Linked DNA regions of Homo sapiens: regions 2, 3, 4, 5 and 6 are each reported to be linked to region 1. Evidence: microRNA targets listed by miRTarBase, many of them from high-throughput screens and not tested one by one. Region 1 holds a microRNA gene; each other region holds the end of a gene's coding sequence.
The links. The annotated mature microRNA hsa-miR-3163 reads UAUAAAAUGAGGGCAGUAAGAC and lies in region 1 at 2,579-2,600, shown strand. An mRNA with a match to its seed (bases 2 to 7 or 8) in the 3' UTR can be bound and repressed. Matches are read on the target gene's strand: a 7mer-m8 pairs with bases 2 to 8, a 7mer-A1 pairs with bases 2 to 7 and ends in A, and an 8mer does both.

Region 2: miRTarBase lists HSBP1 as a target of hsa-miR-3163. Seed matches in the 3' UTR shown: 7mer-A1 at 2,539-2,545 and 7mer-A1 at 4,655-4,661.
Region 3: the mRNA of MKX is a reported target of hsa-miR-3163. Seed matches in the 3' UTR shown: 7mer-m8 at 3,251-3,257, 7mer-m8 at 2,922-2,928, 7mer-m8 at 1,549-1,555 and 8mer at 1,407-1,414.
Region 4: the mRNA of HMGN4 is a reported target of hsa-miR-3163. Seed matches in the 3' UTR shown: 7mer-A1 at 662-668 and 8mer at 1,419-1,426.
Region 5: miRTarBase lists ARHGAP29 as a target of hsa-miR-3163. Seed matches in the 3' UTR shown: 8mer at 3,246-3,253, 8mer at 2,963-2,970, 8mer at 2,918-2,925, 7mer-m8 at 2,801-2,807, 7mer-m8 at 2,320-2,326, 7mer-A1 at 2,304-2,310 and 1 more.
Region 6: the mRNA of SKP2 is a reported target of hsa-miR-3163. Seed matches in the 3' UTR shown: 8mer at 2,172-2,179, 7mer-A1 at 2,711-2,717, 7mer-A1 at 3,737-3,743 and 7mer-A1 at 3,771-3,777.

What each region holds. Positions count from the first base shown.
Region 1 is chr11:66,931,724-66,937,075 of GRCh38, reverse strand. It overlaps MIR3163 (microRNA 3163), which reads left to right and starts at 2,570; the gene lies at 2,570-2,642. The region is part of intron 3 of PC (pyruvate carboxylase); the gene reads left to right.
Region 2 is chr16:83,808,974-83,814,325 of GRCh38, forward strand. HSBP1 (heat shock factor binding protein 1) reads left to right here. Exons shown (of 4, transcript NM_001537.4): 3 at 332-452; 4 at 2,448-5,352. The coding sequence ends at 450. Among named protein-coding and RNA genes, the nearest start is that of HSBP1, 3.7 kb to the left of the region's middle. RefSeq lists enhancers at 3,955-4,466, 4,467-4,978, 4,979-5,352.
Region 3 is chr10:27,671,773-27,677,124 of GRCh38, forward strand. MKX (mohawk homeobox) reads right to left here. Exons shown (of 7, transcript NM_173576.3): 6 at 3,749-3,782; 7 at 1,102-3,643. The coding sequence ends at 3,457. Among named protein-coding and RNA genes, the nearest start is that of MKX-AS1, 70 kb to the right of the region's middle.
Region 4 is chr6:26,544,889-26,547,888 of GRCh38, forward strand. HMGN4 (high mobility group nucleosomal binding domain 4) reads left to right here. Exons shown (of 2, transcript NM_006353.3): 2 at 239-2,045. The coding sequence starts at 319. The coding sequence ends at 591. Among named protein-coding and RNA genes, the nearest start is that of TRA-CGC1-1, 7.1 kb to the right of the region's middle.
Region 5 is chr1:94,170,148-94,175,499 of GRCh38, forward strand. It overlaps ARHGAP29 (Rho GTPase activating protein 29), which reads right to left. Exons shown (of 23, transcript NM_004815.4): 23 at 1-4,602. The coding sequence ends at 3,722. Among named protein-coding and RNA genes, the nearest start is that of ABCA4, 52 kb to the left of the region's middle.
Region 6 is chr5:36,180,249-36,185,600 of GRCh38, forward strand. It overlaps SKP2 (S-phase kinase associated protein 2), which reads left to right. Exons shown (of 10, transcript NM_005983.4): 10 at 1,570-4,071. The coding sequence ends at 1,783. Among named protein-coding and RNA genes, the nearest start is that of SKP2, 31 kb to the left of the region's middle.

The DNA of each region.
Region 1 (5,352 bases):
GGTCAGAAGTTCGAGACCAGCCTGACCAACATGGCGAAACCCCCATCTCTACCAAAAATACAAAAATTAGCCAGGCGTGGTGGTGCATACCTGTAGTCCCAGCTACTTAGGGGGCTGAGGCACGAGAATCGTTGCTTGAACTTGGGAGGCGGAGGTTGCAGTGAGCCAAGATCGCGCCACTGCATTCCAGCCTGGGAGCCTGGGTGACAGAGCAAGACTCCATCTTAAAAAAAAAAGAAGACCTATCTTTTATAGAGTTCCCTTCCCCAAGTTTTTCTACAAATACCCAGGGATGCTTATGTGTTCCACCAAGTTTGGAACATAGTTAGGGAGTGAAAAACATAGGTTAAATGAATGTCATCTGTCTGGCTTGGTTATTTCCTTGGCCAGCTGTTCTCTTCTGTATGTTGCCTAGTTCTCCCTGCCTCAGGGCTGTTGCTTCACCCTTCATACCATATTGCCTTAAATACACAAACGACCTGTCAGGCATTTCACAACATTTTACTGAATGCTTGGAGATAGCAGAATGGAATTACAATACAGAAAAAGATGTTTTGCTCACAAAGGGGAATTTACCCTTTACCTCAAGAAAAATAGAGCAATTGCCAATAACAATATTGGTGGCCTCTCCCCTGCCCATTAACCATCAAGACGTCAGCAAATACTGGGGTCTAATCTCAACTAGTGTTACTCCAGGACACCATATGGAGCTGACTGCTGATGTTCTGTTCTTGATAATATCCCTTATGTGTGTGTAGCACTTTATAGTTTTTTTATTTCATTTTTTTCTTTTTTTCTCTCCCCCCCCACCTTTTTTTTGTGTGTGTGTGTGACAGGGTCTTGCTCTGTCACGAGGCTGGAGTACAGTGGCACCATCCAAGCTCACTGTAGCCTCCACCTCCTGGGCTCAAGCAATGCTCCCACCTCAGCCTCCCAAGTAGCTGAGACTACAGGCATGTGCCACCACACCCAGCTGATTTTTTTTTTTTTTTTTTTTGAGACAGGGTCTCACTCTGTCACTCATGCTGGAGTGCAGTGGTGCAATCACAGCTCACTGCAGCCTCAACTTCCAAGGCTCAAATGATCCTCCCACCTGAGCCTCCTGAGTAGCTGGGACTACAGGCATGTGCCACCATGCCTGGCTAGTTTTTGTATTTTTTGTAAAGACTGTGTTGCCCAGGCTGGTCTCAAACTTCTGAGCTCAAGCGATCCTCCTGCCTCGGCCTCCTGAAGTGCTGGGATTACAGGCATGAGCTACAGCACTTGGCTAGTTTTATTTTATCAACCAGTTTTCCCTGGAACTGGTTATGGTTGTGGTTTTGCTGCTTATGGATGACAGACCCGAGGTTCAGAGAGGTTCAGTGTCTCTCTCAGCTTCACTAGGAAGAGTTATAGCCAAGCTCTGACAGCAGCAAACCAGATTCTGGCCTGAGGTTCTCAGAATATGCTGCCGTTCCACAGGATGTTGCAATATGGTGTGGCAGGGTGTTACAGTGCACAGGGCTGAAAAGACCAACCTGAGACCCTCCCCTTTCCTTCTGAAGTTATCACTTCATGGACGTTTGCAGCTTTTATCATAAGAGCCATTTGTTGTCGCATGGCTTGTGGCCAACTGGGAGTCTACCTCCATCTAAGGCAGGGCTCTTCTCCCTGCCATGTTGCCCAAGGCTGTTTCAGTAAGACTGTAAGGTTTTCTTCAGCCCTCCTGGCTTTTGACTGCCCCATTCCAACTGGTTGCAAAATAGCTATTTGTGTTTTTGCTGACCTGAGCCATCTTTCTGTCCATTTATACTTCTGATATTCTTACGTGGCAATCAGTATCTAGCAGAATGAATGCCCCATTTTCTAATCCTGCGTTTTCTCAGTTGACTGAGTGGCTTAAGGAGGACAAGTTATTACTGGGCAGTACTCCAAGAAATGGTTCTTTCCTTCAGCATTTACTGTGCATCTGTGCTATGCACAGCTCCTTACTGGATGCTGTGAGGCCACAGGAGGATCTGACAAGGTGGCCTTGCCCTGAGTTGTTTATCCGTGGTTGGGAGAGAGGGAATGCACGTGCTGGACAAAATACATGCTTGCATAGTGACTGGCTAGCGTGGAAGAGTAGTAATGACCTCATTGATCCTGCTTCTGTGCCAGGTGAGATGCTAAATGCATAAACATACACAGGGGGCTGGGCGCGGTTGTTCACACCTGTAATCCCAGCACTTTGGGAGGCCGAGGCGGGTGGATCACCTGAGGTCAAGAGTTCGAGACCAGCCTGACCAACATGGTGAAACCTCATCTCTACTAAAATACAAAAAATTAGCTGGGTGTGGTGGGAGGCTGAGGTAGGAAAATCACTTGAACCCAGGAGGTAGAGGTTGCAGTGAGCCAAGATCGTGCCATTGCACCCCAGCCTGGGCAACAGAGTGAGACTGTATCTCAAAAACAAAAACAAAACACACATAGGGAATTACCGGGGAGTGGCATAGCAGAGTTGAGAGCATGGACCCTGGAGTCAGGCGGACAGGATGGAGTTCAGGCTTAGCCCTGATCAGCAAGTTCCTTAGCTTCTTCAAGCCTTGGTTTCCTCATCTATAAAATGAGGGCAGTAAGACCTTCCTTCCTTGTCTTACTACCCCCATTTTATAGATGAGGAAACCAACCAGTGGGGGCTGTTGGGTAGAGATCAAATGCAATAACTTTTGTACAAATGAAATAACACACGTTCATTCTGTACAAATGAAATAACACATAAACAAATGAAATCACACAGTCATGTGCCTGACACTTGGACACACCGTAATGGTGGCTCTGTTAATGGGACCAGTGATGAACAGTTAGAAGTGAACCCCTTGAGGGTAGAATATGTGAATCCGAGGCCCTGCAAGATGAGGGGACTCTCTCAGGTGGGTGGAGGAGCTGGTCCTCGCATGTGTGATATTTGAGTTCGTAGGAGGCGGGTGCCCCCGGACAGTGGCAATGGGAGTGAGGCCAGGTGATGAGACAGAGGGTGATGCCCCAGCCTCGCTGGCGTGGAGGAAGGCAGTGGGAAGCCGGCAAGGGTGGAGGTTGTGCCTGCATTGATCACTGTGGAATCCTCAGGGCCTAGCACTTGGGAAGCAATGTTGGAGTGTGCTGGTGGGGCGTAGTGAGCATTAGGGCTGGAAGTTCATTCTGTGAACCCCAGCTGCGTGTTGGGATTTGAGACAATAAGAAGCCCCTGAGATGCTTGAGCCAGGACTACCCAGAGGTGAATGGGATTTTTGGAAAACCTCTGGGCGGAGTGGGTGGCTGCCTGGGAATGGGGAGAGGCAGAGGTTGGGTGGGGACTAGCTCAGCAGGGAATGTAACTCAGACATTCCGGAATGATGCAAGTGGAGGTTAGGGAAGTGGTTGCAATGGGAAGGAGGTGGCAAATATAAAGTGTCACAGAAGAAAAGTTGTCATGGGGCCAAGTGGAGGGAGGGATTGGAGAGCTCTAAATTGCAGCTCAATCTTCATCTTGAAATGCAGGATGGAAAAAGCCACCCCATTTATTTAGCTAAAGGGAGCTGACTCCAAGACCTGAGGTCGGGGAAAAGTGGAGAGACAAATAGAAAAGAAATAGGGAATTGGGACAGGGCACCATCTTTCGGGATGGTGGGCTTTTAAGCCCAACTCAGCATTTCCTGAGAAAATTGAGATAGCTTGAGACCAGAGCAATAAGCGTTGAGACTTACCCGGAGAAAATGTTACCCAGAGAGGAGAAAGGGCTGGTAGGGCCTGAAGATTCTTGAGCTGATTTTCCCCAGTTCTTGCCTCTTAGTGCCTCCCATTTCTCCTCATCTGACGGTTTCTGGGTGAGACAGTTGCATCTCATCTGTGGTAGGCTGCCTACTGCTTGGTGAGCCTGGGCTGAAGGGCTGAGGCCTCTGGAAGAGCTGTCAGGAGAGAGACACCTTCAGGGTACTTGGAGCTTTCGCCTTGCTTCCAGGGCGGGATAGGTGGAAGCTGAAACTGCCTCCTAGCAAACAGATTTACACTGATCAAAACAAAGTATTTGTAGGTGTTAGAGTTAAGAGGTTGAGGTTTTCCGTTGGATTTTTTAGGTGCATGGTGGAAGAGGTATTTTAGACGAAGGATTCTCCTAGCAGACACAAAATATGAATTAAGAACACTTGTTTCTGTTTTTCTCCCAACTACTTCTTGATATTCATAGTTCCTGGTGCTGGGACTTTGGAATGGGTTTTGGTGTGCAGAAAAGACAGGGCATTTGCTGCCAACAGGGGACATAATTGAGACTAAATTCACAAGATAAGGGATGGTATGATTTACCTTCCAAGAAAAGATCTGTGTCTGGTCCTGTATCTGGCTTCTTTCTTTATTGCTTTTGCAGTTCTGAATCAGTTTTCTTTCCCCGATGGCTAGCTTCTCCAGCTGGAGAGAACACACAGTTTAAAGAGGCTTTCCCCCCAGGGCCAGATTAAGGATACTTCTGGGCTAAAGGGCAAATGCAGCCATTCCTAGCAGATTTATGGCCCCGAAAGGACATTTCGGCCACTGCATCTGCGAGATTTTTGTCCCACATCAGCTAGCCCAGCAGCGTAAGCCCAAGGGTTTAGTCATTGACAGAGTCCAACCAAGGGGTCTCTGTGGAACCCTGGGCTTGAATGGGCTGGAGTTCTACCCTCCCATTGAAATCATTTGAGATGGTAGAGTGCCTTCCATGCTGAAAACAGGTCTCATGTAACAGTTACTGATGGGGCCAAGGAAGCCCAGGTATGACCTAGGTAACTCCTCAGAGATGCTACTGTTGAACCTAATAGTCTTCTAGCAGGTTACCAAGCGGTAATCCAAAGAGTTAGTGTTTAACTTAAAAAAAAAGGTATTCAGTTTAGCTATGTAATACTTGCACCTTGTACAAACATTGAAATGTATGAGTCTCCTTTTTCCTCTCTCCCCAGTAACCCAGTCCCCTCCCAGGAGGCCACTTCCGGTTAAATTATCTTGTCTGTCCTCTTGGAGGTGGTCTGCCCTTTGAAATAGAAACATATTTCCTTTTTTCTTTTTCTTTTTCTTTTTTTTTTTTTTTTGAGACAGAGTCTCGCTCTGTCGCCCAGGCTGGAGTGCAGTGGCGTGATCTTGTCTCACTGCAAGCTCCGCCTCCCGGGTTCACGCCATTCTCCTGCCTCAGCCTCCTGAGTAGCTGGGACTACAGGCAACTGCCACTATGCCCGGCTAATGTTTTTTGTATTTTTAGTAGAGATGGGGTTTCACCGTGTTAGCCAGGATGGTCTCTATCTCCTGATCTTGTGATCCACCTGCCTTGGCCTCCCAAAGTGCTGGGATTACAGGCGTGAGCCACTGCGCCCGGCTACAGAAACATAT
Region 2 (5,352 bases), not on the chromosome of region 1:
TGGTGGACCATGCACTGTGAACTAAGCGCTTTTGTGTGTGTCTTTTGATGCTCAGCATGACCTTATGAGTGGGTTGTAGTGTTATCATCTTTAGCAAATGAATAAATTGAGGTTTAGGGGTTCCATCACTAGTAAGGGTCAGGGCTGGAATCCGATGCGGGGTAGCCATGCCCCACAGTCCTGTACTCTTACCCACCAGCGTGTAACAGTGTCGAAAGAAAATTGGAAGACCAGTTTCCCTAAAGTCGTTGTGTTTAAGGCTGTAGTCTGCAGGGACGGGAGGAAAAAGGCTCAATGAGATGTTGGCACGCGTTGTCTTTAACTTCAGCACTTGATGATATGAGTAGTCGCATTGATGATCTGGAAAAGAATATCGCGGACCTCATGACACAGGCTGGGGTGGAAGAACTGGAAAGTGAAAACAAGATACCTGCCACGCAAAAGAGTTGAAGGTGAGGAAGGGGGCAATTTTTTTTTTCTTTTCTTTTCTTTTTTTTTTTTTTTTTTTTTTTGACACGGAGTTTTGCTCTTGTTGCCCAGGCTGGAGTGCAATGGCACGATCTCGGCTCCCTGCAACCTTTGCCCTCCTGGGTTCAAACGATTGTCCTGCCTCAGCCTCCCGAGTAGCTGGGATTACAGGCTTGTGCCACCACACCCAGCCAATTTTGTATTTTTAGTAGAGACGGGGTTTCTCCATGTTGGTCATGCTGGTCTCGAATTCTGACCTTGAGTGATTTGCCCGCCTCAGCCTCTCAAAGTGCTGGGATTACAGGTGTGAGCCGCCGTGCCCGGTCTTTTTTTTTATTTTGTCTTAAAAGAATAGAGAGAACCTGTAAGTATAATTTGTATGTAGTCAGACATTCTGTAGATCAGTTCCCAGCCATGATCCCAGCAAGCATCACTGTATTGTTTACCTGCTGTGGACTTGATGTTTTGAAATTTTTCATGCCAAACTCATTCTTTACACCGAATTTATTTTCCCAGTTTTTATTAATTAGACTTCTGTCACTATTAGTGAAGACCACTGGCTAACATTAGATAACCACTGAGTTTTTATCATTCCAGCTAATAATTAAGGTGTCTTTTTGTTGGCCTATAAAGCCTGTCACTGGAAGATTTTCCATTGCTTTTTTTTTTTTTTATGGAAATAACTGATAAGTCACCCACATTACCACCTTCTTAAATGGCTTAAATTCTGGAGACTTTCTTGGTAACTTGACATAGGTGAACTAGATTGTGGCCACATTAAGCTTTTACCCTGGAGTTCATTTAAATTTCCTCTGAATAGTTTCAGATGTCAGAGGAAAGCCTAGTAATTCAAAGTACCTACACAGCAAGATAGGTAAATGTACAGAATCACTCAGCAGAGTGCATGGTGATCCTTTTCCTCTGTATGTGTGAAAAATAAGTTTTAGACTCACTTTTCTCTTGTTTCATTTATAACATTTTAATTCTCTATAAAAATGAATGTTGCTGAGGGAGGCGGAGGTTGCAGTCGAGGTCACGCCACTGCACTCCAGCCTGGGCGACAGAGTGAGACTCTGTCTCAAAAAAAAAAAAAAAAAAAAAAAGGTACTGGTGCGTGGTGACTCATGCCTGTAATCCCAGCACTTTGGGAGGCAAAGGCAGGCAGAGGGCAGATCAGTTGATGTGAGGAGCTCGAGACCAACCTGGCCAACATGGTGAAACCCTGTCTGTACAAAAATTAGCTGGGTGTGGTGGTGCACGCCTGTAATCCCAGCTACTTGGCAGACTGAGACAGGAGGCAGAGTTTGCAGTGAGTCGTGATGATGCCACTGCACTCCAGCCTGGGAGACAGAGCAAGACTCTGTCTCAAAAAAATAAAATAAAATGGTTCCTGAGTATTTTTAGATTCGTAGAGTACTAAGCAGAATGTACAGTAAAACATGCCTAATTTCCTATTTTCTGGGCTTGCTGTGGACCACATTTTAAGTCACTGTGAAATACAGATTTGGGATGTTGAAGACAGACTCTAAAATTTGCTTTTATCTTCACAGTAGGTGGGGTTCATTCACTGTGTGAGTAAATCACATAACTGCTTTCTATGGGTTATGTCATCGTTATTCTTATCCAGAGATAATTTGGAAAAATGTCCTACCAGTCTCAGATGCTTCTGTGGGTCTCTTTTTATATTATGTGGCAATCAAAACTGCCATCAACTGACTGATTATCTTACCACAAGAATTTCAGGATGGTAGACTGGCTAGTGATGGGGGTCATTCAAAGAAAAGAGTGGGAGTAGGAAACTGACTCTGAAACTTTTAAAGATATTTCCAGTTAAATCTATTGCTAAAATATTGCCAGAAGAAAATAAGTTTAACTCAGTAGGAGAGTGGAAAGGGATTTGTAGTTGATAGGTCTATATGTCATTTTTACTTGTGCTCATATAATGAAAAACATGTTGATGATTTTTCCTTCTTCAACAGGTTGCTAATAATTTATACTGGAATCTGGCATTTTTCCAAGCCAAGAGAAGATCGAATGGCTTTTTGCAGCTAACTACTATGTGTAGACAGGTTTTATATTATAAAGTATGCATTCTTATCACCTAGTATATAGTTAGTTTGTAGAGTGATTTCCCCCCAGTTTCTTGAACATGGTATCTTCACATCTTGGACCTTGGTCAGTTGTGCTATTCATTATTAAACACTAAAACTTTGGCGGTTCTTGCATAACATTGTCAGATTTTTTAGTGTATTTCTGTGAAGTCATTTTTTTTCTTGTCATTCCTTTTGTAGTAGTTGCTGTTTGGATAAAAGTTGATGTGTGATTTTTTATTAAACAAATAGTAAACCCTTCAATTATAGTTAGTCTTGGTGAAGTAAGATGTTTGTAGACTTTAGAGTTCTTTAATTCTTGGCACAACGTGACTGTTGAGCTAACACCAAATAGTGTGTTGGCAATACTTTTCAAATGGCTGAAAACACCTAAAAATTGTTCATTCAGAAATATCTGTCACTGCTCTGTTGCCAAAACTCAGAATAGAACTTAGACGTATGTCTGAGTCCCTGAGATCACATGCTAAAGTCGATGAAAAGTAACCACTGCCACTGTCTTGTGTCAGAACTTTTACAGTACAGAAAATAACAGAATAGCCTTCTGTAATGAGGCGTTTGTTAGAGTTTTGCATGAGATTCTAATACTTCAGTAGGACCCTACCTACGTGGTTCATCTACAATGGTTACCATAAAAAATCTGGCAGGATTTTAAAACTCAATCAGTCTTTCCTTTGAGCTAGTGACTTGAAAAGAAAGAGAGAAGGAAAAGAGACCATATTAAGTCCATGCCAGTTGCTTGGCTAGAATATGATCAACGACTTGTAGTAGACTCAAGTTTTTAAAAAACACTATTTTACTTAAACTGTTTCTTATCTAAATTCTTGCAGAGTGTCAATGTTATCATTGATTATAGAAGACAGGGATAATACCTTTATCTCTGGCCACTCAAAAATGCAGTGCCAGGAGTGCTAAACCTAGAGGCCAATACTGATGACCTGGAAGGTGATCCATATGATTGTCACCACAAAGTGCTTTTACACAAAAACTTGAAAATTTGAAAAACATGATTTTTTTAAGTTTCTCATCTCACCAGTCTTGGTGTTTATATTGCAAATCTATCAAAGTAAGAAATAATTTGTGCTGTATACAAATTACATGGGGAACATAAAGGAGTGAGATCCTTCTGTGATAAAATGAATTCACCACTCTGGTTACCCAACTACAGAACCTCCTTTGATCAGGCCAGTAGGTTGTGATGCAGGCTGGAGCCCCCGAATGCCCCACACACACTGCAGCATTGACCAGACCATCCGAAACCTGCGTCCCTGGTGATGTTCTCAAGCCTCGGAAGTGGCAAATGGAAATGATATGGCCGGTTGCGGTTGTAGGAGAGTTGTGACTTAGGCAGGAGTCGACCTCCTCAAGTAATGGAACGATTTCAAAGGCAGGCTGCCCTGACCAAAAATATCTGCCATGAATAAAGGTGCCTGAAATCCTGCTATGAAGCTTCCTTTGTGTCAAAAATCTGTTTGGTTTTCAGATGGAAATGCAGAAATCACATTAGAGTATCAACTAAAACCTCTGGACGGATTAAGTACAAGTAGCCCAAGGCAAAGCAGGAGAGGGGGTGTTGGGGGAGGTTGCCTGCTGGAAGGGGAAGCTGAGGAGCGGGAGGAGGGCTTGCCAAGACTGGCATTGCAGGAGACTTGTCTCAGGTGTGTTCCCAGAACTCTTGCCCCTGGAGATGCTGCAGGAAGGAAGGGGTTATGGTCACTTGGGTTTAGACGACATTCTGTGAACCTCATGAAGAAATTAGCATATTAAAGACTCTGAAAGTAGAGCAGAGAACTCAGCTTTAACCTGCTCACCTGCTAGTTTTCGAGGTCTCGCTCTGTTGCCCAGGCTGGAGTGCAGTGGCACAGTCATAGCTCACTTGGAGCCTGAAGCTCCTGGGCTCAGGCAGTCCTCCTGCCTCAGCCTCCCAAGTAGCTAATATTACAGGTTCGTGCCACCGCACCTGGGTCTTGCTGTGTTGCCCAGGCTGGTCTAGAACTCCTAGGCTCAAGCAGTCCTGTCTCAGCCTCCCAAAGTGCTGGGATTACAGGCTGGAGCCACCATGCCTGTCCAAGGGTCTTTTTTATACTATATGAAGTATTCCTTCTCCAGCTATTCTTGTTCGTTTACCAGCCAGTGAAGATTCTCTTGAGGGCTGAACAATACAGATGAGTATGGGGGCCCTCGCACCAAGGAAAACAGCGTTACATTTAATTAAGTGCCCTGTCTCAAACCCCAAGGCCCCACAGCTTCTTCATTTGGCCCCTAGTTCATCCTGCTTTCCTTTGAGCCACAGGATTTTAAAATATTTCAATCTTATTTTCATATCAATTTTTTCTTTGTTTCACTACAAGTACAGTCATTGTTTAACCCTATCAGGACTAACACAATATTTCACGTAACTAAGAGTTAATTTGCCCTTGTGAGTCCTTGGAATTTAAGCCCCACACACACACACTTAGAGCACTGTTGCTATGGGAACATAGAGTCCTCCAAACAAAAGTGAACTTTTTCAACATGCTGTTTGTAAATGGAAGCCTTCCCAAGCAGACACTGTGTTCCTCTTTTATTTTGTATTTTGCACATTATATATTTTGATTAGATTAAAATGGAGGAATTTGCAGGATGTGTTGTCATATCTAGCCCTGAAAGTTAACTGGTTACAGTTACCAAATGTTCACAGCTAGCGCCATTGAAAGCATTGACTGTAAACCGCTGTACTGTGCTAAGCCTTTTGTTTGCACTGTTTGGCTTAATCCTCACAACAACACTGAGAGGT
Region 3 (5,352 bases), not on the chromosome of region 1:
CAGGTTCTTACCACCACAACACACCGCCTTCCAAGGCATGACTTTCCTATGCCATCCCTGGCAGGACAGCATGGGTGGCTTGCTCTTCTTCTCTGTGTTTATTTGCATGCTGTGACACCACTGAGCTGGATAAGTTTAAAAGCAGGCTATGGCTGTTGCCACTGTTTGTTAAACATTGCTACTTGGAGCAGACGGAGAACACAGGCAGCAGCTTGAGTTTTTCTTAGCCATCTTGAACAGTATCAAGCAGGACAAACAGAGGGAAAGCAATTCTTGTTTATCCCAAAGAAGGAAGTGACAGCACATATCGTGTTTTCTGTTGGAATGTCTGTTCTGCCTTGGCTTCGCAACGCTTTATGCTTTTTGCCTGGAAGTTTTAAGTGATGATGCTAAAATGATCTTCCTTGAAGGCCTTTCTAACTCTGATACCAATTTTCACCATTGCACAGCAGCTTTTCTTGTCAGGCATCTCTCCCTCTCTACAGCTGTCCATTAAACTACCCATGTCTTATGTTCCATTTATTTTAAATATTTCTACTTTCTTGTGCATAAAGCCTGAATAGAGGAATTGTAACTATGCAATAATATGTTCCAGTTACCAAGCACCTATTATCTGACAGACACTGAGGTAGGCACTTTATGTATTGCATTTTATCTCAATCTTAGTGCAAACCCTACAAGGTATAGCTCCTTACTCCCACTTTGCAGATGAAGAAACTAGATAAGAATGACTAAGTAGTAAGGGACAGAGCTGAGATTCAAAGGTAGTTCTGTCTAGCTTCAAAGCCAAGGTTTTCTCTCCAGTGCAGAGCACACCACAAATAATGCTAATTGTATTAGTGAGGGAAAGAAGGTATTACCTGAAAATGTTCATTTTAAAGTTAGGTATTTTAATAGTCGGCATCACACTCCCTTTTCCTCAGTCTTTGAAAGCTGGATTGGTGGCCTAAGGTGATGAAATTCAAACCTAATACAAATGCAGCACTCCCATATCATATCCCTTAACAGTCTAAGGAGAATTGCTGAATATAATGGGCCCGTCTGTTCTACTGCTTCATCTACCTGGTCAGCTCTCAAAGGAAAACAAAATCCATACGATCATCGAGGTCTAGAAATTAACTTTTATTTTAAATCTGTCAAGAACTCCTGGCAGTTATTAATTTTATTAAAATGATTACATATGGCAAAACAAAGAATAGAGGTAATTCTATTTCTCTACAACATAAATTATGAGTTAGATTTTCAGCTGCCGGCTCAGCATTGTTCAAGATTCTTTTAAAGGACTGGGGGGATTTTAATATCCAGAAAATGTTAAAGCAGCAAAAGAAAAAATAAATTAAAAAGTCATTGCAATTGGAGATATTACCAAGGATGTGCTTACTATAAAGTCTTCTTGACATGTTAATTATAAAATCTTCCAACCTTTGGTATTAAAAAAAATCATGTGAATAGTTGTCCTATATTGCCTTGTCATCTATAATTTATAACATAGAAGAAATTTGCTGATTTTTTTAAAAAGATGGCAAACATGAATCATGACTCATTCAAATAAAATACAACCAGCATTCATTCATTTAACTGAAATATGTCAAAACAAAAACACTTTTATTAACATATTTAATACCAGAATAACTTATAATAGTATGAAAAAGAGTGAAGTATTTGTCTTTAGTTTTCATTGACATGCTCACATTTTGGCATTTTTGTATTGTTTTGCAAAGATTCCAAAGTTTTTATCAGAGATCTCTAACTATTTAAGGATGCAAACCAAAAGAACTCATACTTCATCTGATCATACAGTCATAACTTATATATTTTGCTTTGCGCTTACTGTTACTGCAAACAGCAATTTAGAAAACAAAGTAAAAATATATATATATACACAAAATATTTTTATATCAAATTATCTTCATTACACTAAATAAACCCAATCCCCAAATGTTATGTTACATGAAAAAGTGTCCTACAATTTAGATCAAGACTGATACTGTCCATCAACTAGAGCAGCCTTTGGTTTTAAAAGCATTTTGCAAAATAAAGAAAAATGTCACCACTGGCTGCACTATTGACCCTCATTCACACTGACAAAAATGCTTTCCAGTTTAAAAAAAAAATAGATTACATACCCAGAAAAAAAAAATCCCATCATAAAAAGTCAAACCCTTTTTACTTCTCTGTAGCACATACCCTCTGTTATATTTGGCATTTCCACTGCTTATTCAAGTTTCAGGTCTTCCCAAGCTGATTGGAATATTATTGTTTAGTTGAGAAAGATAGTCTTCTTTCTTGATATTGATTATTCTCACTCAATGGTAGACTAATTTAGAAACAAAATGTTTTCTTTCAATGCATGATTTCACTTCATTTTTACTTTAATGTCCAACTTGGCAAAATTCAAACTGTTCAATGTTTTGTTTTCCATATGTTTTAAATTTAAAAATCAATTTTATGTATGTATATGTATAGCCGCACAGAGATACATTTCTTTCATTCTGTTGTTCTCGCTGCAATACAAATTGTCCATCAGCAATTGTAATTTGAAACAAACCAAATAAAAGATTTTTAGTCATTCCATACGAACACAGTTTCCATCACAAAAAGACAGTGAGCTCTAATGCAAACAGGATTATGTTTTAAAACTACAGGTTTAGTTTTACACAGGAAAATTTTGAGTTATTTGTATAATAAAGTTTTTTTTTAAACTTCAGCAGAACTTGAGAAACAAATCCAGATTAATTCTAAAGGGCTTTGTGGTGCTTTCCAACAGTGCTTGAAAAAAAGTTTTCCTGGTCACCATGTGTTCAATGAAATTTTAAATTAGCTTGAAGGAATCACTTCTTAAATGTACAACGTTCTGTGGATCGCTGCACCTTGAATTTTGGAAGTTTGTAACATATCAAATATGCAGGCAAGATACATGCATAAAATTCTCACCGTCACTCTGAAAAGCACATTGAACAATTTTCAATAATGTAGACGTTTTTTAAAAGGAAGATTTCATTTGGGCTGAACAGATATCCAAGTTTTAACATATGAATTATTGAATGTATTTCAAGGGCTTTCAGCGATTCTGGTTTCAGTCCTGGAATGATTAGGCCCGTCTGGAATGATGCACACAGGCTAATAAGCATATGGCGTTGGCATTTTGAGGCATAGCTTGTTCAACTATGCCCACGTTGGAGCTTATTGTCGGGAAGCAAGGCACTTACTGTAATGGTAATGCAGATGTTTTATGCATAGTTTGAGTAACATAAAATAAGTTAATATTTTTGATTAAAATGAGTTTTTTATAATTTATATGTCTTTTATAGAAGCAACTAAATGATATATTTGGGATAATTAAAAATAAGAAGAGGTTTGGGAGAGAGTCATTTTCATCCCTGCTTCGGCTCTTAGGATGAGGGTTGATGAAAACACCGGAAAGAACATCCATTGGATCTGAAAAGCAACAAGCTCTTAAAACTGCTGCACCAGCGGCACTTTGACAGTCTTTACTTCTGCTATATGGGACGACTTCTGGATGATGCAGCTGGTAGTTCCCTGCAGTTTGTCCTTTCCCTGTGCAAGATTTGTTAAGGCCATAGCTGCGTTGATCTCCTTCCAATACGTGTCATCCTTGCTTGGTCCTTTTCTGTTAGCTGCGCTGGAGTTAAGCAAAACAGAAAGTAAACGATCAAACTCACTGCAGTTTGCATTGAAAATGCCATCGCTGAAAAGCAGGAACGGCCAATGGGAACATTTTGCTCACCTTTCACCCTTATTGGATCCGTTTTCCAGAGTGTCTGTAAAGAAAAGCAAAAATTCAATTATTTTTATGTTTTTCCTTTCTTTTCTCATCTCAGGAGTTTCATCACTAATGACCAGAAGTAAAAGTTCTTCAGGAAATATGGTTGAAAATTAGTTCGCTTTTAATAAAGATAAAGCAGTTTATATTAAGATGCAAAAAAAATTGCAAAGGGGCAGAAGTAAGATGACAGTGGGTAGTAAAGAATAAAAGGTAGCTCTCATAGATACACAAAAATCTGAAGTTATTTACTCTGAGAAATTGGGCCTTTTGGATCAGGAGACAAACAGCATAAGGAAAAGAGTGCTGACTGTACCTGGGGCCAGGTTCTGGCCTTGCCCTACTACCCACTTGCAGTGTAACCTGGGGGCAGATTATGACCTCCCACAATGTCAGGGATTCAGTTCTCTAACTATAAAATCAGGGAGCTTTGGCTGGGCACAGTGGCTCATATCTGTAATCCCAGCACTTTGGGAGGCCAAGGCGGGGGATTGCTTGAGCCTAGGAATTCGAGACCAGCCTGCGCTACATAGTGAGACCTCATCTCTACTAAAAATAAAAATAAAAATAGCTGGGTATGGTGGGTGTTCACCTATATTCCCAGTTACTCAGGAGGCTGAGGTGGGAGGATTGCTTGAGCCCAGGGGGGTGAAGGTGCAGTAAGCAGTGATTGTGCCACTGCACTCCAGCCTGGGCAACAGAGCAAGACCCTGTCTCTAAGAAAATTAAAATAAAAAAGGGGGGGGTTCTAGAAAATCTTGGGGGTGCTTCTGGCTCAATGATTCTATAATTTCATGGTTATCAAATTTTCTTTTTTCTTTTTCTTTTTTTTTTTTTTTGAGATGGAGGCTTGCTCTGTTGCCCAGGCTGGAGTGCAGTGCTGTGATCTCGGCTCACTGCAACCTCCACCTCCCAGGTTCAAGCAATTCTTCTGCCTCAGGCTCCTAAGTAGCTGGGATTACAGGCACCCGCCACCAAGCCCGGCTAATTTTTGTATTTTTAGTAGAGACAGGGTTTCACCATGTTGATCAGGCTGATCTCGAACTCCTGACCTCGTGATCAGCCTGCCTCAGCCTCCTAAAGTGCTGGGATTACAGGCGTGAGCCACCGTGCCTGGCCAGTTATCAAACATTTATTTCAGACAAAGGATGGGCAAATAGTTCCCTCTGCTAGTTAGCAAATGAGTAACGGACCCAATGGTGATAGCAATACAGGATTTCCTGGCATATTTATTAGAAGAAGCAGGCATTGGTCCTCAATTTCCAAAACAACGCCTCCTCCTGCTGCTGCAGGAAATGAAAGTTAGGATGCTAGCTTTTGCTTCTGCACTCACATCTTTGGTTTAGATTTGCTGCTTCACTCAGAACACGAATGTCTCCCAACACCACATAAATATAAAGAACCCACGAAAATGGGTTCTCAAGCTCCTTAGGCTAAAAGAATCTGGTATGAGTAACACAAAAATTTACCTACTGAAGGGAAAGATGTAGGGTGGTAGGAGAGAGGCTACTGGCATGGCATCCGAGCAAAGGAGTGGGGTTGAGACTCCAAAACCAGATAGTGGGTAA
Region 4 (3,000 bases), not on the chromosome of region 1:
TTCATTTTGTCCTTTCCTCATGGATCTATAGGAATGCTTTATGTATTCAGGATTCTAACATTTTGTCCATTATATATTTTACATATATCTTTGCCAAGCTGGTACTTATTGTTTTACTTTTATTATGCTATCTTTTTTGATATACACGAATTATTAACAATATAGTCAATTTGATTTTTAACGTTTACATTCGTCAGTCTTTCCCTTTATGGTTTACGCTTTTTGTGTCTTGTTAAAGACATCTTTCCAGGAACAGCGTGAGGAGGACAGAAGCACCCAACAGGACTGCTCAAGCCACCTGCGAACACTGCTGCTACCATGCCCAAGAGAAAGGCAAAAGGAGATGCTAAAGGTGATAAAGCAAAGGTGAAGGATGAGCCACAGAGGAGATCAGCTCGGTTGTCTGCTAAACCAGCTCCTCCAAAACCAGAGCCCAGGCCTAAAAAGGCCTCTGCAAAGAAGGGAGAGAAGCTTCCCAAAGGGAGAAAGGGGAAAGCAGATGCTGGAAAGGATGGGAACAACCCTGCAAAAAACCGAGATGCCTCTACACTCCAGTCCCAGAAAGCGGAAGGCACTGGGGATGCCAAGTGAAATGTACATTTTTGAGAGCTCTGTACTTATAGTGACTCTACTGTTTGAAATACTATTTTTTTAAATCAAGTTTTATAAAAGTGTAGAATTTTGGCTTTTTTAAGTTATGTTGTTAGCACACAGGACACTTCCTTGTTGTCTTTTGTGGAAAGGGCAAGTACCACTAATAGGGTGTATCTCAGAAACTGAATTGAAATAAGGGAAAATAGGATTTTCTGTCCTGGTTTTTGAAGATTGTTCTTGATTCCCTTGATTCCCAGGAGAGATTCTCTGACATTCACGTGTCAGCCACTTTGGCACGGAAGCCTTACAGTGTGGGGAACCAAAACTTCGTGTCTCCCCTTTCCCCGATGCCATCAGCATAGACTTGACTTCCTTAAACCGAGAGTTTTGATGTGGCCTTGGCAACCCTAAAATCAGCTGTGTTAGGTAACAAAACTCAGGCTTTCTGTTGATGACATCGAGATGGTGTCACTTAAAAGAGCCAAGATTCCTGTTTTCAGTTTGTGGATTCATCCTGCTGGTTTTACTTTAGTCCCTCCATGTCAAAGTGGGCCTGAGAAAAGCTCATACATGCCTCATGTGAAGTGTCCACCCTCTCTGAAAATCTTTCTTGTTCAAAACAGCAACGACATATCTTGTTAACTTTTACGGTGACTTTTGGAGGAGGGGAGTTTGGAAATTGTAAAATGTTATAGATTGTTGCCTATTTCCTGCTGAAAGTAAATGTTTTTAAAAAGTATCATATAAAGCTGAATACAAATTGGTTTGGGGGGAGATCCTTTCCTACCCAAAGTCATAAATATATTCTTTACTGCCTTGTGGAAATTTTATAGTTTTGCCTTTCACATTTGTCTTTAGTCTGTCCTGAACTGATTTTTGTGAAAATTATGAGTTAGAAATTCAACTTAACATTTTTCATATTCGAAGTGGTTGTCTCTGCACTATTTACTGAAAAGTTCATCCTTTCCCCAGTGATTTGTAACACTGCCTCTTTCATAAATTAAATTTTTGTGTATGTGTGTGGGTCTTTTGATGGTTTCTATTCTGACTGACATCAATTTGTCTAATCTTGTAGCAGTACAGTACAGTCCTGATTATTGCAACTTTAGGAAAAGGTCTGATAAAAACCAAGATGCCTCCACATTTTGTCATAATTGTAACCAATTTCACCTCTGTCTCCAGTATCACCACAAAATTGTTCTTCCTTGGAGTGTCTTGGCTATTCTTAGCCAACTGTTCCTCCATATTACTTCTAGAATTAGACCAACAATTTATAAATCAAACAAACCCAAGAGCATTGAAATTTTGATTGGATTTGTATTGAATTTATAGATTAATCTGGTAAACCATGTCATCTTTACAATGTTGTCTTCCAATACATGAATATGGTACAGCTCTTCATTTACTTAGGCCTTTGAAATATCTTTCAATAAAGTTTATAATTTTCTCCATAAAGGTCTTCTTGTTAATATTTCCTAGGGACTTTATGCTTTTTAACACTACTTCGTATGGTATATTTTTAGTTACCACATTTTCTGTTTTTAGCTAATGTTGATTTCGATTTTTGTATCCAGCAGCCTTGCTACCTCTCATTCTTGTATCTGCATATTCTTGTGGGTTTGTTTGTTTTTTTTACATAGACAACCATATATTCTGTGTATACAAACAATTTTGTTTCTTCTTAGTCCTTATTATACCTGTAATTTCTTTTTCAAATGGTCAGCGTAGTCTAGGTGTTGGTGTCTGCTTTTTTTTTTTTTTTTTTTTTTTCCCAGACAGAGTCTCACTCTGTCTTCCAGACTGGAGTGCAGTGGTGTGATCTTGGCTCACTGCAACTTCCACCTCCCGGGTTCAAACGATTCTTCTGCCTCAGCCTCCGAGTACCTGGGACTACAGGCGCGCGCCACCACACCCGGCCAATGTTTGTATTTTTAGTAGAGACGGAGTTTCACCATGTTGGCCATGCTGGTCTCGAACTCCTGACCTCAGGTGATCCACCCGCCTCAGCCTCTCAAAGTGCTGGGATTACAGTCGTGCGCCACCACGCCCGGCCGTGTCTCTGCATTTTTTTTTGAAATGGAGTCTCACTCTGTTACCCAGGCTAGAGTGCAGTGGCGCAATCTCTGCTCACTGCAACCTCCGCCCCCGATTCTCCTGCCTCAGCCTCCCGAGTAGCTGGTATTACAGGCACCTACCACCAGGCCCGGCTAATTTTATTATTATTATTATTTTGCATTTTTAGAAGAGACGGGGTTTTGCCATATTGGCCAGGCTGATCTCAACCTCCTGGCCTCAAGTGATCAGCCCGCCTCGGCCTCCCAAAGTGCTGGGATTACAGGCATCAGCCACCATGCCTGGTGCCATTAGAGTTTCGAGCAAAGAAATGGCACAATCTAAGGTGTTTTA
Region 5 (5,352 bases), not on the chromosome of region 1:
AAATTACTTCCTAATTCTAATTTTACAATGGAGAAACCTGGTATATACTATCTGAACCAAGTGACCAAAATTAATACTATCAGGTATAAGACAAATTGACATTGTGTGCATCCTGGCATGACACATTTGAGTATAGAGCATCATTTCTGTAGTATTGGACAAAAATGTCTATCCTAAACCTTATGGGTCTTATCTAATGATAAACCAAAACTGAGGAACTTTCTACAAACTGGCCAATCCTCCTCAAGTGTCAAGGTCAAAGACAAGTCTGAAAAGATGTTCTGGACTGAATGAAACAAGAGATAGGGCAACTAAATGCACTATGTGGTCCTGGATTGGGATGCTGAAACACAGGAACATTACTGAGGCAATCAAAATCAGCAGATTGAATGTGGTCTATGGATTAGATATCATGATGTCAATGTCAATCTCCTAAGTTTGATGGTTGTACTATGGTTACGTAGGAATGCCCTTGTCTTAAGGAAACACACAGTAGATAGAGGTAATAATGCAAAAAATATTTTGGTTGGGATTACATTGAATCTACAAATGTAAATGAACATCTTTACACGACTGAGTCTTCTAATTCGTGTACATTATGGAGTACTACATTTATTTAAGATCTCCTTAAATGCTTCCTGACATGGTCTAACATTTTCTCCATCAAGATCTTGTACATCTTTTGTTAGACTTATTCTTAGGTAGAGTATTTTGTATTTTTTAATGATATTGAAGAGATCTTTCTAAAAACTTCCATTTCTGTTAGTTGCTGATATCTAGGAATACAACTGACTTACATACTGATTGTGAATGTAGCAAATTTGCTAACTCCTAGATGTTAACTGAATAGTCTACATATATAATCATATCAACACATCACCATAATTTCCTGCCTGTAGGAAAGAAAAACCCACAGAATTCCACTGACTATAAGTTATTTAACAATATACAATGGTTGTCATTTAGAGAGATGTTTCCAGTTGTATAAATACTGTAACACAACGATAGCTGGGAATAGTGTAGCCATAGTACCATCTTTAAATCACCCAAATAACTGAGGTACAATTCTATCTGCTTGTGAGTTCACTAGGCAACAAGTCTCAGGGATCATATAGTCTTTGTCTCTGTATCAAAACAAATACACTGCCTAAGGTACACTAAAAGTAATTTAACATACTGTACTCATAAATTCTAACTAAGTTCTCTGTAGGTAAAACATGGCTAGGGAAGTTATGATCAACCCTTCAGAAATGACTTCTTCTGAGTCGTTTGGACAATACGCATCATCTTGGACAATACGCCTCCCACAAGGCTTCCTGGTGTTCTGGCAGCACTAACAGGGCTCCTGCTGTTGCCCTTTCCTTTTGGTCACGTATCTTTCCATGTTGCAAAAAACAACTTCTGGATAAATGATTTCCACCACACTATTAGATAGCACAACACAGTGCACACTGTGGATCCTCTAGAAATAGCAACCTCTTCTCAAGAGATACTTGCCTCAGGGCCCCAGGAAACTAGAAAGCATCTAGAGGCTTAAGGCTCTACGCTGGACAAAGTGCCAGGGAGCCCTAAAGGCAGAAAGGACCCAAAAGTGAAATTCTCATTTTTAAGCTGTGAGGGAAAACAGAGAAATGAGTTTATTACATGATATAACCTTTGGGTGGGCTCCATATATTAAAAGAGAACTGAAGAAGTTTAAAAGTACATTTTCTAAGTTTTAGTATAGGATGATGATAATGTTCTGGAGATGAATAGGTGCTCATGGTTGCAAAACAATGTGAATATACTTAATGCCACTGAACTATATGCTTAAAAATGGTTCAAACAATATACTTAAAAATGGTAAATGTTATGTGTATTTTACCACAATAAAAATTTTTTAAAGTTGCATTTTCTATTGTTAAAAACTACCAGATATTATTTAGTAATCACAGTCATTAAGAGCACTAACCATCAAAATCTGACAGCCCTATGTTTGAGATTTGACTCCACCTGTTACACCTGTGGAACACTGAAGCAAGTCATTTAACTAAGCCTTAGTTTCCTTATCTGTAACACAGAAATAATAACATGCTTACCCACCCATTATAGGTTGCTGTGAACTTGAAATAAAATAATCTATGTAGCACCTTGGCAAAGTTCCTGGCACACAGAGAAGGCTCAATACACATGGGCTCTAATTTTCTTTTTAGGTATTCATAGCAATATGATTATTTTATATTTTGTACAATGAGGACTAAAAACAAGCCTTCAGAAAAAAAAGGGCTGGTTATTGCTCCCTAGACCTTTACATCACATAGAACTATAAAACAGGTTTCCATAAAATTCATTCCACATTGTAGTCAACGGATGTATGATCCTAGGTGTTGACTTCTAAGCCAATGGTTAATAACCTTAAACTCTCATACTGTAATAGGCAACAACTGAAAAGAAGCCACGGGAACATGAAATAATTTAACAAGTTGATATATATATATATATATATTATCAAGTATAACACAGTCATACAAAAACATTTAGTAGAAATATAATTCACACATAAAAACAGTCTACTTATTTTTTGTCCCTTTTATATCCTATTTTAGGCAAAATGATAAAACCCAGAAAATAACAGGAATGTACTAGTCCTAAAAACTGGACCTTTTATAAATGAAACAGATCCGATCACCTATACCTTCTCTCAAATTCCAAATAATGAGGCTTACTGACCTGTACTCTCAGAATCAACTTAAATAAATTTTAGCTTGATTTGGATGAAATATGTACTTTCAGTTGTTGACAATCCAGGTAGAACAAGTACATAAAATGATTCCTAAGTCAAAACATTTCATACAAAAGGAATGGTTTTAACCCAGACAAATCAAGAGGAAATGCACTGAATTCAAAAACTTCTGAAACAGGCATTTTTTGGACCATTTATAAAATACTAAAAAGTTCAGAACTGCTGAAAAACAAAAGTTTATATAAAATAAAGCCAAGGGGTGAAAAACTATCAAATGTATTAAAACCATCTAAAGCCAAATATAATATAACTGAATATATAATTTAGAAACAGGTTTAAGTGCATTTTCTTTGTACAACTGACTATCACATGTAAAAACTGGCAATTAATTAAAATGCAATTAAATACAGATTTGCAAGCCTTCTGGCCATTATGTAAACATTTAAAAATTAACTGAATTGCCAATTGAAAAATAAGAGCTTACATACGTATCTTAAAAAAGCACAAATGGTGAAAGATGCACTATAAAATTGTGTGACAAAACATATGCATACCAACAAAGATCTTTTTAGGCACTTGCATTCAGAAACATTCCTTTTATAAATAAGCACTTATAACAGTTCCACTCCAAAAAATAAACCTGATTTTCCCAAATTGCACCTATTAGTTGAGACTATATCATATATTAGGGATGCATTCAAATGGACCATTTGGTGGGGAAAGTCAACTGAACTTTAAAAAATACGAATCCACCTATCTTATTCACAACTTTAAAAATACAGAATTTAAAGATAATTCCAGTGAGGCACAAATGTGACCCTATCAAAACATTCTACCATTCAGTATTACCAACAGAGGATAAATACAACAACAAAAGGCAAAACCCATGATTTGGCAGTCCTATACAAAAGAGGCCCTGTCAAAACATTCTTTCACAAAACAAGCACAATACCACAAAATAACACAACAACAACAAAAAAACCCTGAAATTTGACATCCCTACACAAATTGTGGAATTTCACCTTCGAGGTCTTCAAACTGTTGCATTCGTTTTAGCCTTGGTCTCTGACACATTGGATTCACATCAGGCAAGCCAAGCTCCTCAGAGTCTTCTTTAGGTTGACCAGTTGCTTGCCCAGGACAAGCTGATGCTTTGTCTGGGTCTGGCATTGACTTCACCACGAGACCGTGGGGATCGTGATCTGTGCCAGGAGGCACTGCTGCTGAGGGTGAAGCTGGCTTCTCCTCATTCCCCCTGATACTGATGATGGGAGCATGTGGTTTATAAAATGTTGTCCAATGTTGAGGCTGCAGTGTTCTGGGTGCTCTGACAGGAGCGAGAGGGTAGGAATCTGAAGACCGTCTCTCAGATGCCTCTCTCACTGACCTGACTGGCTCTGCATATGGCTTACTGGGTTGAGTGGCATTGATAGAATGGTCCCCACTAATCTGGAGGCTTGTTGTCACTCCTTTTTCCTGGAGTGCACTGGGCATGATCATTGTAGTCTTGGCAGTTAGGCTGTTTTGTTCATACTGTTTGTCCTGAATTTTCTGTAGAGTTTGCTGGTCAAAGCCATTAAATTTGGAACAAACAGTAGTAGCAGCGTCTTTTCTATTAACTCCTTCAAAGGCAGGATTCTTGCAAAACTTGTCTAAATTTACATTTCCCATATTTCTGCCATTTCTCTCATTAGGAGGACTTGCAAGAAGTAGTCTATCTACAGGCAAACTTACAGGTCTAATCTTGGTCCTTGGAGTATGCCTCTCCACATTGTTTGTTGACCTATCAGATTTCAGAGAAAGTGGCTTAGGGGTTTTACCATCTTCTATCTTTTGGGATGCTGATTCAGCCTCTTGGTCTAGAAGCAACTGTGCTTTGTCTGAAAATGAAAGAAATCTATTTAAGTTTGTGGCACATGGTTAATAAGAGAGTTTGAATGAGTTAGAGATGAACACTCTATCAAGACAATATGAGTCTTACATATTTTTTCCAAAATAATATTCTCAGTTACCTATGTGGAGGAGTTAAACATTTGCACAGTATTAAAGGTGTATATTGAATTTAAAAGTTCAAATTTTTTACTCATTTAAATCAACATGAACAGCTACAAAACACAAAAAAAACACTTGCTGAGTAACTTCTTTTTAAGTGCTGTGCATGAACAAGTACTTTCTGGGTCAAAAGACTATCACAATTTCAATAGGCAGACATTGGAAAATTAACCTCAGAAAAGTGACACTAATTTACACACCAACCAGATGTAAGTGTGCCCTGAATCCCAAGGATTTTGCCAACTCACTCAATCTGCTTTTCAGTTACACTCAACCCAGTGAGAGCATATGATATTAGATGCCTTAGATGCTCTCCATATCTGATCAACTAATAAAGCATAAAATCCATTCTGTCAAATGAAGGCTGAATGCTTTTAAGTTAAAAAGTGCCATTTTCCCCACCTGCTCCCGGATTTTCTTTCTATAGTCCGAACCCACAGTCCATGTTTTCTCACTTAGAAGCCTCAGTTCCTGCATCTATCCTAAAAAATTCCAATTCCAGGAATGTTCCAGCCCTCCATTCTCCTGCTTTTCTGTTCACTGCTGAAACACATCCACCAACTCTGTGCCTTGACGCC
Region 6 (5,352 bases), not on the chromosome of region 1:
TCACATGAGGGATTCAAAGTTGGAGCTGGATTGCTGTCATCGTAAGTGATTAAGTATAAGTATCTGTGTATACTGTGATCTTACTTCGACAGTGTTTCTACATTCCAGAAAGCAGTTTACTTAATGACAGCAATTTGTTCTTTCTGATTTTCTTTGGTTATATACCTTTAGATCTTATTGTCCCCTTGTGAACAAGCATATTTATTTCCCTTGGATAATGCTTTTATTTTATAAATTAGCCTTCATCTTGTACTCAGCTAACGTATATTAAACATTTGTGGGGTTTAAGACACCTTGTAGAATGTAGAATAAATACATTTAGGGGAGTAGTGGGAAGACTGGAAGAGCAGGTTAAACACGGAAGGTCTTCAGACTAGCTGAACAGCCTGGGTTCTGTAAACACAAGGGAAGCATCAAAGGTTTTGGAGCAGATGAATGACTAACATGAGCTAGGCTTTAGGAGGATGCCTTGGAAATTGGTATATAGAATAGGCTAGAAGGAAGAAAGACAGTTATAAGGAAAGTTTGGGGCTTTTTAAAAATAATTATTGACAATGTGAAAATATAAAGGATGTTTCTGACTTTAGGTAATTGATGTGCTCATTGATCTGTAGTAGGATTTTGTTGAAATTCCAAAATAAATGTTCCCTTTCCTGAGACTTTGTACTGTATGTCCCAACCTTGAGCAAACAGAGATGAGAGAGATGAATTTCTAGGCACATAGATCTGAGTTAAGAAGGAAAAAATCATTACCAACACCAAACAGTATTTACTTTGGAAAAACAGAATTTGTGAAACAGAATTTGAGAAACAGAATTTGTGAAACAGAATTTCACTGTTAACAGGGTTGAATTTCATCTAATGTGAAATACCTAAAGGGACTGGCTTATCTATGCAGAAAAAAAATGGTAATACGTAGGGAGGTAAGATGGCTATTACCTCCTATAAAGGGTGTGATTTTTCACCCATTGTCTCTACCTGTACCCAACTGTATAACCCTATCTAAAATATCTTAGGGAAGTCAGTGGTAGTTTTCATCACACATAATGGACTTGTTGACTATGAACCATTATTAAGAAGTTCATCAGTCCTGACAGCATCTCCCTTTAAGAGATGAGCCTAGTTCAAATAAAGGTCAAGTTCATATCCTTAATTTGCATGTAACCTGTGGTGGTTCCAACTGGTGCCGCAGTAAAACATTTGCTTTTACCATCACTCACTTGCTAGTTTCTTCTCATAACACAGTAACCCCATTCAGATCACTGTATAAATCACAACTGGAGAAAGGAAGCAAATATGGTTGGATTCTTAAATAAATCTGAGTTTCTAAGGTTATTAGGAACCTCATTCAATAAAATGCAGCAGTGTGTTTCCTAATGACATGTTGCTCAAGCTATATGGTCTGTGCTTTCCAGTTTAATTTGCTATTTTCTCAAATCATTTATTGTAAATTACACTTTCAGACTGCATTTTGTAGATGACACAAATTGTAAAATTTGGGTCATATAACTCTAGTCAAACAGTTTCCATAGATACTGCTATTCTGAAAGTCTTTTTCTTCCTTTCCAGTGAACTTGGAGAAATTCCCACACTAAAAACACTACAAGTTTTTGGAATCGTGCCAGATGGTACCCTTCAACTGTTAAAGGAAGCCCTTCCTCATCTACAGATTAATTGCTCCCATTTCACCACCATTGCCAGGCCAACTATTGGCAACAAAAAGAACCAGGAGATATGGGGCATCAAATGCCGACTGACACTGCAAAAGCCCAGTTGTCTATGAAGTATTTATTGCAGGATGGTGTCTCTTCTTTAGAACAGGGAAAATAGGCAGGAAGCCCAATTGCTGGAGTACTTAGCTAGTTTTATTCTTGGTTTTCCCTTTGCCTTCATTCTGCAAGTATACTAGGGAGCCATTTGAGAGGGAAAACTATGAAATCTTGCTTTTTGAAATGATTCTAAAAGCTTCTATCACTGCTTTGCTCTTAAGAGCCAAAGTTGTAGGCCTTTTGAAATTTTAGGAGAGTGAGCCTATAATTTCAAGATACCTTAAAGAGCAAAATTTGAGCCACCTCTTCCAAGTGCCCTTCTTACTAAGTCTATTCAGAATCAAGCTTAAAAATTACCACCAGCAAACAATCTTCATAGCCCATATAACTTTTATCTATTTAATTTTATAGTATTGCTTTATAAGACAGCTTAGAAGAACAATAAGCTATTTGTATTATGAGCTGAACAAAAAGAGAATCATAGGATAGTAGCGTCTGAGGCCATCTTTTCTAGGAATAGGAAAGAGAAAAATGTATTTGAATTTTGCCTTTAGATTTGAAATTAGGTTAATAGAAATAAGTAACCCCATGTAATTCACCTTAAAACTTAACAAAAGACCAAACATTACAAAACCCAGAGATATAGAATCAATATAGGATTTGAAGGCCCAGCAGACAGTTTTCTATGACAGGTTAATCTGAAGTATCCTGTAATGTTCATTAAGTTACTGTGTTTCCAGAATCTAAATTAGATGAGAAATATAATTGTGGTTTTCTAACTTGATAATCAAATTATGTTAACATGGGTCCTTTAGCTTTTAAAATGACTTGCTTTGTTTTAGAAAGGTGGTATTAATCCACTCTCTATTCTTGAAAATTTGGATGGGAGAATTCTGAAGTTGCCTGCTGTTTTCCTTTAGCGCTGAGGTTCTTAAGGTTACTTTTATATTACTCTGGAATCAAGTATTTTAAATTGTATTTTTTTTTTAAATGATCTCTCAGCAATAATTGTTTGAAACTATCCATATATAAGGTTATCAGACCTACAGTTCCCTAAGAGGAACTGCATGTTCTCTTCAATCAGAAATATACAGTAGAAGCAGGTATATCTTCCATGCAGTTTCAGTAGTAAGCACTACTTATACCTACATAAGAGTTAAAATCCAGATGTGGGACCTTTTGATACCATCAGTGATATATATTTTTTTAAACTGGTACAGAGAAGTGAAAAGATTAAATTCTACTTCTATTTTTTTTTTTTTTTTTTGAGACGGAGTCTCGCTCTGTCACCAAGGCCGGAGTGCAGTGGTGCGATCTCGGCTCACTGCAAGCTCCGCCTCCCAGGTTCACGTCATTCTCCTGCCTCAGCCTCCCGACTAGCTGGGACTACAGGCGCCCACCACCACGCCCGGCTAATTTTTTTGTATTTTTAGTAGAGACGGGGTTTCACCATGTTAGCCAGGATGGTCTCAATCTCCTGACCTCATGATCCGCCCGTCTTGGCCTCCCAAAGTGCTGGGATTACAGGCATGAGCAACTGCGCCCAGCCAAATTCTACTTCTTAAAAATCACAAAAACTAGTTTAAATTGATGACTTGTTCGTATGTTCAAAATGTAACAACAAAAAAAGCTAACACCAGTCATTTATATTAACTTTTTTTTTTTAAATCAAAAATTGTTAATGTTAGAAACATACTATGAAGTGCCTTTATCTGCTTAGACCTAAGGAAGATTTTAAAGTTGGGTTGCACAGGAAATGATGATGCTTCAATTTCTTAATAGTTAAAAAGTGCTAAATACTACTTGAAATTATTGTTTACAGATTAGTGACAAGAGCTGGGGTTAGGATCCGGTTGGACTCTGACATCGGATGCCCTCAAACATACAGAACTTCCAAACTCAAGTCCAGCCATAAGCTATTTTGCCAACATGTCAGAGTAATCTGTATTTTTGTATGTGATTTCTACTTTTATAGACTTGTTTTAAAACAATAAAACACATTTTTATAAAAATGAGTGCTTAAACTAAGTTGTATTCCTTTTTTCTTTCTCTTTTTTTAAGTGCTGTGGTTAAAATTTGAAAGCATTTAGTGTGGTATGCCATTTGGCTTAGATACCTCTAAATAAGACTCTTCAAAACAGAGCCCTGAGATGGTCCTTTTTGACCCATCTACTTCATATGCTTGTCACATTAAAAAAAAAAGTTTATAATGCCTTTATAAAAGGGGCTAATACAGTCTTGTTATCTTTTTTTTTAAATTATACTTTAAGTTCTAGGGTACATGTGCACAACGTGCAGGTTTGTTACATATGTATACATGTGCCATGTTGGTGTGCTGCACCCATTAACTTGTCATTTACATTAGGTATATCTCCTAATGCTATCCCTCCCCTCTGCCCCCACCCCATGACACGTCCTGGTGTGTGATGTTCCCCTTCCTGTGTCCAGGTGTTCTCGTTGTTCAATTCCCACCTATGAGTGAGAACATGTGGTGTTTGGTTTTTTTGTCCTTACGGTAGTTTGCTGAGAATGATGGTTTCCAGCTTCATCCATGTCCCTACAAAGGACATGAACTCATCATTTTTTATGGCTGCATAGTGTTCCATGGTGTATATGTGCCACATTTTCTTGATCCAGTCTATCATTGATGGACATTTGGGTTGGTTCCAAGTCTTTGCTATTGTGAATAGTGTTGCAATAAACATACGTTTGCATGTGTCTTTATAGCAACATGATTTATACTCCTTTGGGTATATACCCAGTAATGGGATGGCTGGGTCAAATGGTATTTCTAGTTCTAGATCCTTGAGGAATCACCACACTGTCTTCCACAATGGTTGTACCAGTTTACAGTCCCACCAACAGTATAAAAGTGATCCTATATCTCCACATCCTCTCCAGTATCTGTTGTTTCCTGACTTTTTAATGATCGCCATTCTAACTGGTGTGAGATGGTATCTCATTGTGGTTTTGATTTGCATTTCTCTGATGGCCAGTGATGATGACCATTTTTTCATGTGTCTCTTGGCTGCATAAATGTCTTCTTTTCAGAAGTGTCTGTTCATATCCTTTGCCCACTTTTTGATGGGGTGGTTTTTTTCTTGTAAATTTGTTTGAGTTCTTTGTAGATTCTGGATATTAGCCGTTTGTCAGATGAGTAGATTGCAAAAATTTTCTCCCATAGTGTAGGTTGCCTGTTCACTCTGATGGTAGTTTCTTTTGCTGTGCAGAAGCTCTTTAGTTTAATAAGATCCCATTTGTCAATTTTAGCTTTTGTTGTCATTGCTTTTGGTGTTTTAGACATGAAGTCCTTGCCCATGCCTATGTCCTGAATGGTATTGCCTAGGTTTTCTTCTAGGGTTTTTATGGTTTTAGGTCTAAGTCTTTAATCCATCTTGAATTAATATTTGTATAAGGTGTAAGGAAGGGATCCAGTTTCAGCTTTCTACATATGGCTAGCCAGTTTTCCCAGCACCATTTATTAAATAGGGAATCATTTCCCCATTTCTTATTTTTGTCAGGTTTGTCAAAGATCAGATGGTTGTACATGTGTGGTATTATTTCTGAGGGCTCCGTTCTGTTC